Homo sapiens: one gene and its partner. The protein of the gene in region 1 interacts with the protein of each later gene in a pairwise test. Each region holds a gene or a part of one and is shown on either strand. Other genes may lie near its edges.

Evidence for each region.
Region 2: the proteins of LAPTM4B (region 1) and EMP1 interact in binary tests that used the Homo sapiens proteins (3 or more experiments, as listed by UniProt).

What each region holds. Positions count from the first base shown.
Region 1 is NC_000008.11:97,850,825-97,853,515, reverse strand, and holds the end of LAPTM4B (lysosomal-associated transmembrane protein 4B), read right to left. Parts: intron 2,120-2,691; coding exon 2,042-2,119; 3' UTR 503-2,041; downstream 1-502. UniProt on the Homo sapiens protein: Required for optimal lysosomal function. Blocks EGF-stimulated EGFR intraluminal sorting and degradation.
Region 2 is NC_000012.12:13,209,898-13,213,725, forward strand, and holds part of EMP1 (epithelial membrane protein 1), read left to right. Parts: intron 1-1,571; 5' UTR 1,572-1,613; coding exon 1,614-1,691; intron 1,692-3,581; coding exon 3,582-3,678; intron 3,679-3,783; coding exon 3,784-3,828.

The DNA of each region.
Region 1 (2,691 bases):
AGGCCACCAAGCACCATCACTTACCTAACTGACAGCCCAAAGCCAGCATTATATGTAACTCTGGCAGGACTAATCCCCTTCGTTGCCCCACCACTGGTCATGCTGATGACAAAAACTTATATTCCCATATTAGCTTTTACTCAGATGGCTTATGGAGCCAGTTTCCATCTTTCTTGGGTGGGATCAGATGCGGTTTTGCTCTACCAGAAGGTAGTCCAGCCAAACCAGACTACCTTAATTTAGCTAGCAGTACAGCTCCTCTTTTCTTTTCATGGTTTGCCTTCTTATTTCTGAAAGACTTAGTGAAGCCATAGTCACAGTAATAATGGGTATGCGGGTAGCATTACACCTTCAACTTTTTCTCTTACCACATTATCCCAACTGGTTTAAAGCCCTGAAGATAGTAGTCACTTTACTGGCCACTTTTTCATTTATAATCACTTTAGTAGTTAAAAACAGTTTTCCAGAAAAAGGACATAAGAGACCTGGTCAAGTATAAAAAATCTAAAAATACACTGTAGATAACATTTGTATGCCGGCTACACCTTTTTCTACTTCTGTTTGGCTTTTTTCCCCCACACCAATGGTAATTTATTCTCCACGGATTGTTCTTCATTTCTAGAAATTGTTATTTCATAGTAATTACTTGAGCAAAAGCTTGAAAATCCCTGACAAGTACTTTTCATCTCATAGTGTATTAGTTTTCACTCAGTCATTTTATGAATAATATAGTTATCCACTTAAACATTTCAATATTTTAACCATCTTGAAAATTAAAAGATTAAAAATCCCCCCCACCCGACCTCCCCCCCCCAAAAAAAAGCCTACTCCTTAGGCTGAACTGGGTGCATCTGCCAGACCATATGTGGAGGGAAAGGTCCTCAGACACAATCAGCACAAAATCACAAGGTCATCTTGGATGTGGGCAAACCTTGTTTTAATTGCAAACAACTTAATTTACAGCACATTCAATAATGAACCAACAGGAGAGTTGCTGACTTTGTAACATATGAATATATAAAAATCCCTTGCAATTCAGGTAGTCAAGGTAAAAAGCGCATACAAGGAAGGCAATCCTCATTTTTCTGAAAATGTTTACATTTTAAAAGGTGACTAGACATACTTGGAAGTTCAAAGCAGTAGGATGTAGCTTGCAGGGAAAAGAAAACCCTTTTCCATGTTGTTAGGCAGAAGTATATCAAATATATCCCAATTCCACTTGATAAAGTCAGTTGGATGACCTCCTTGAACCAATCTAGGGCAGAACACTTAGTAAAAGCGGGCCCTGGGTGGGGATGTGAATCCAGGAGAAGAGGGGCACCAGATCCCATGCAGCGCCAAACACATCCATTCCACCCTCTAACACATACGAGGCATGTCACCCCATGTCCCTGGACACAAGATCCACAAGAACAGTCAGCAGATGGTCACTGCTCCCACGGCCTGGTGCTTTCTAATGGTCTTAATTCAGGCCATGGAGAAAATCCTTTACCACCAAACACAAACTGTCATTGAACTTCAGTCATAAAGGATGTTGTGGGGGAAATTCTTGTAACACATACATAAGGACTTCTATTTACCTAATTAGAACAATGATTACACAATTGACATTCCTGTTTCCATAAGGTTTTGTTCTCTATGCTGGAATGGCTGAAGAAAAAGTTGTCTATTTTTGGTTTTATTTTACATTTTCAAAAGAGAGGGAACAGAGAGAAAAATGCCCAACTTTGGGGCCCAGCAGGTACAAAAGCAGACTTCTAGGTCCATCAGATTTGGGGGAAGTTTCAATGCCTAGGGAAGGTTAGTGAAGCCCATTATATCCCCAATCGTACAGGAAGAATTCTACAGTTAATCTATCACAGTGTTCCAGCAAAGCATATGTTGAAAACTACAGTTTTCAATCTAACATCTAAATTTTAAAAAGTAGCATTTCAGCAACAAACAAGCTCAGAGAGGCTCATGGCAAAAGTGAAATAACAGAACTATTGCTCAGATGTCTGCAAAGTCAAGCTGCTGCCCTCAGCTCCGCCCACTTGAAGGCTTAGGCAGACACGTAAGGTGGCGGTGGCTCCTTGGCAGCACCATTCACAGTGGCATCATCATACGGGGGTAGCAGCACCTGAGAAGAAAGAGGGACGGCAAGAGTTAATGTTTGAAGAGCACACACGTTCCCCGAGGTTTAGCTTTTACTGAACTTTTATGCAACTAAACATGTTCCACAACTTGTACCAAGTTCAATTTTCTAGCAAGTGGATACACTTCATTAAAAGACTTTTTGAATCCTTAAAGGAGCAAATGGAGAGCGACTCTCAAGCCTTGAGTTTTTCTAACCCTGTCCATGTGTAGCTGGATGGCCAGAGGTCGGTGACTCTAAAAGAAATGGTGATGGCTCTGAAGAGGAAAAAAGACCCCTAGGTGAGTGTGTCCATGTGCACACACAAATAGGGCAGGCACTTGATTGACTACAGTAACCACTCATGGTGAGAACTGCAAAGTGCAGTGAAAACGCCAAGCTTTTGGTATCAGCCTGGATTCAAAGCCTGGGTCAGTCACATTTTATCAGCGTAGCCTTGGGTAAGTTCCTTAACATCAGTTTCCATGTCTATGAAATAAGGATACCTCAGAGTTGGCGGTCTATACACTGGCTGATTTCGGCTTTCTTGGAGTAGAAAATGGAATACAGAATAGTTA
Region 2 (3,828 bases), on another chromosome or scaffold:
CGTCATAATTTTTGCATTCACAGTTAAGTTGGACACATTCCTAAAAAACAGCCTGGGTTGGAAGGAAGTGGCCAGATTGGGAAGGGGCTGTTGGAGACGGTCAGGGAGAATGGTGGAAGCCATTGTCTGCCTCTCATTCCTTGCTTGCAGAGAGCAAGGCACCCTGATGTATATTAGATCACTCTAGATTTTTGGTTGCCTGATAAAGACAGTGAGAGGAGATAAAAGGCATGTGAAGTGTTGGAATTATAGTATCAGTGCTCTCTAATAAATACCTGATGTGGCATGAAAGTGCCTCAAGCACATTCAAAGCATCAATTAAATTAGGTGGAGTGAGAGAGGGCAGTGGAACAATTGCAGGATGCGCCTGGCCATCTCCTCCCTTGGTTGGGGCATCCACACATCCATTCTGTCTAGGGTGTGAATAACCTCAAGCCCTTTCCTTTTGATGTCCCTCTGAGCCTGCACTGCTTTGTGACAGTCTTAGGCATGACAAAGCTCTCCTTCTGTAGCTGACATAAATCAGAATAGCCTCCCCCATGTGTATCCTTCACACTTCCTTTATTTCCTAGGCTTTATGATCAATGGGCTCCCTTCTCTGCTGTGATTATGGCTGAAAGCTTTTGTTTATCCATGCACATTCTTAATCGATATTAGTTCCCAATCCTCCCACCCTGTGATTTATGCATTTGCCTGTCTTCTGTATTGAGTCCTGAAGGATTGGAATTTGTGTAAATGTCATGTACAAGGAGAAGGCACATTTGGTGCTATCTCAAGTTGCATTACTTTTAAAGCCCCCAGAACCATCACATTGAGCTGTGGAAAATATGACTCTCTGCCCAGACCAATGGCAGGCTTCCTGCCATGAGGCACACAGAGCCCAAAGGCTCAGGTGTAGTAATACTAGTCTGAAATGCTCAGTCACAGGGTGACCAGACCATTAAACTGTAATTAGGTTGTTATAATTATTGAAAACCAAACAGCATTATAATAATAGAATTGTGCCTCTCACATTTTATATCTCGCCCAGGATCATATTAGTAGCCTATTCAGTATATGGGCATTGAGTAATAGCTGCTATTCTTCAGAAGGCATTTACTTCTATTAAAAGTGCTGGGTGAGCAATTTGATGAAAGCATGGACATTTTCCTAGTGGAAAATGGACATTTATATGACATTGTTCAGAGACCTGGAAATTATAAAGGCCTACTTCTTTGAAAATCAAAGTCCTATTTTTAACCTCTAAAACACAAACAAAATAAAATACGAACAGTTATCATAAAATGTTCTTGTTCCTTTTTTGAAATAGAATGTATTAGAGAAATGAATATGTAAATACCCAAGAAGAAACCAAATTCTGTTTCCATGTAGGTATGTATAACTGGATGAATAGGCACTTAGGCAAATCAGAACTAGGTTACAGGGGTGTTTTCAGGAATTTATGATTAGATTGTGATGGTTTTTAGTGCAGCTCTTCCTCATGTTAGCAGATAGCCCACACGTGTGGGAAAGCTGAGTCGTCTTATTGAATCTGACAGTAACCGTTTTTGTCCCTTTCTTTTTCTTTTCAGAACTCTCTTTGCTCACAAGTTACCAAAAAAAAAAGAGCCAACATGTTGGTATTGCTGGCTGGTATCTTTGTGGTCCACATCGCTACTGTTATTATGCTATTTGTTAGCACCATTGCCAATGTGAGTAATGTTCTTTTGTTCATTCATTCATTGAGAAATCATTCGAATATTTACATCAAGTGCACAAAAGAAGTTTAAGCCACAGCCCTTGCCCTTCATGAACTTACAGCTCAGTTGTGGGAAAACAAAATAAACACACGCTTGCCCTTCAAACAATTAAATAACAGGAGGATAAAAGTGAATGTCCACAGGAGTAATCCTGCCAGAGCTGTAGGTGGTTAAGGGCTGGAGGATCTAGTGCAGCTTCTTCGGTCTCTAGAAGAGCCTTCCCAGCAGCAGGGGTGAGTGGAGCTTGAGGTGAACCTGGAGGAGTGGTAGATGGCTGAGGTTTCTCTTAGTGAAAGAGGGAAGGTGGAAGGATCATAGGGATGCATTCAGGTGGGAGTGCTAGCAAAGGAGCATATGTAGGAAGGACAAGCTTTGGTCAGAGGATAAGGAGGACACACACCTATGTGGCTGGAGCCGAACTTCCCCTCCTTCTGAGAAGCTTGATTAGAAGGATAGATGGGAAGAAGAGGATGCCAGACTGACAAATTCAAATTTTGAGCAAAGAGTAGCATGTGAAAGTGGAGTTTTGCAAGATTAACCCAGTGCCACTGAATTAACTAACTCAGACAAAACGAGAAAAAAAAAATGGAGGTAGTGTCTTTTCTCTCTGAACCCTGGGCTACTCTGACCTCTAGTGGTGGCTTACAGCGCCCAATTTGCTTTTACTTGTGCTTTTCTCAGAAAAAAGCCAGCTCCTTGGACCTAAAAACCAAGGCCACCAATCACTAGGCAGGCAAACCATGGTTTCAGAATCTGTTTAGGTCCCTATCACAGTTAAAGTATAAGTGAGTTTTAAAGTTCAGATAGAAGAGCTTTGCAAACATTAGTGGGTGTGATCATAAGCAAGGCTAATTAAGAATAACTGTGATAAGACAACCCCCGCCCACGTGACCTCCTTGTTTTGTAATTTAGCCATTCTATATGTCAACTCCTATATCTATCCAGATAAATCTGATAAGCTTCTTCAAAGTGTATTAATGAGCGCCAAAGCGCTGCGTATCTGTGAATTACCAGCCCCTAATATAAGGCTAGGCACACAGTTGTTTATTGAATGAAGAGCAGGGATTGGCGTAGGTGATGCATGTTCCCGGCCCCACCTTTCCAGTGTGTGCATTTGTGTGTGTGTAGACAGGACACTGCACTTGTTTTCTCTTCCAGAAGGATAATTCCTTTTCTTGGGCCAGGCAGGAAGGGATGGCGGCACCATGATCAGTCTGGGGGAATCCATTCAGGTCACCCTTCAGCTTTTAGTAGCCCCTACAGGAAAGCACTTGCTGTAGTATTTTACTATCAAATTACTTTGCATGTTGTGACAGTCAAGTTTGATCCTTCTGTTTAGATGAAAGTGGCTTATTAACCACTAGATTCATTGTTATTTTCCCAGTAGGTCTTATGTTTCTTAATTGTTTCCAGTTGGACATTTCACTTTTTTCCTGGTTAACCAGGGACTTAAATGAAACAATCTTGTTAGAGTATATGAACTGCACATACCTAAGCCAGTTTCCTCATCCTGGACTTCTGTTTCTCAGAACCTTAGAATTTTAAACCACTGTGGTTGAGTTACTTCCATTTTTGTTAAGTCGTGAAGAATGTGGAGCCCAAAGAGGGCTAGGTGATTTCTTTCTGGGTTTCACATTCTTCTGTGTCTCTTCTCTTGGCAACTTTGTGAACTTCAGTTTTAATCGGACCTTATTTCCGCCCACAGATAAGCTGCATAGCCATAGTTATAGCTAAATAGAATGTCTTTATTAAAATCTGATCCCGATGCAAGCTGATTTGTTATTTTATTTTTAAATCAGAGGGCCAGCTTTCAATTAACATTTTCTTTCCTTCTGGTTTCAGGTCTGGTTGGTTTCCAATACGGTAGATGCATCAGTAGGTCTTTGGAAAAACTGTACCAACATTAGCTGCAGTGACAGCCTGTCATATGCCAGTGAAGGTATATATAAAGATATTGACCCAGTGCTGACAATAGGTGTGGTCAGGGAATGTTCAGCCCCTGGAGTGACCTCATGCCCTTGTTCTCCTCGTCCTGTGTCTACAGATGCCCTCAAGACAGTGCAGGCCTTCATGATTCTCTCTATCATCT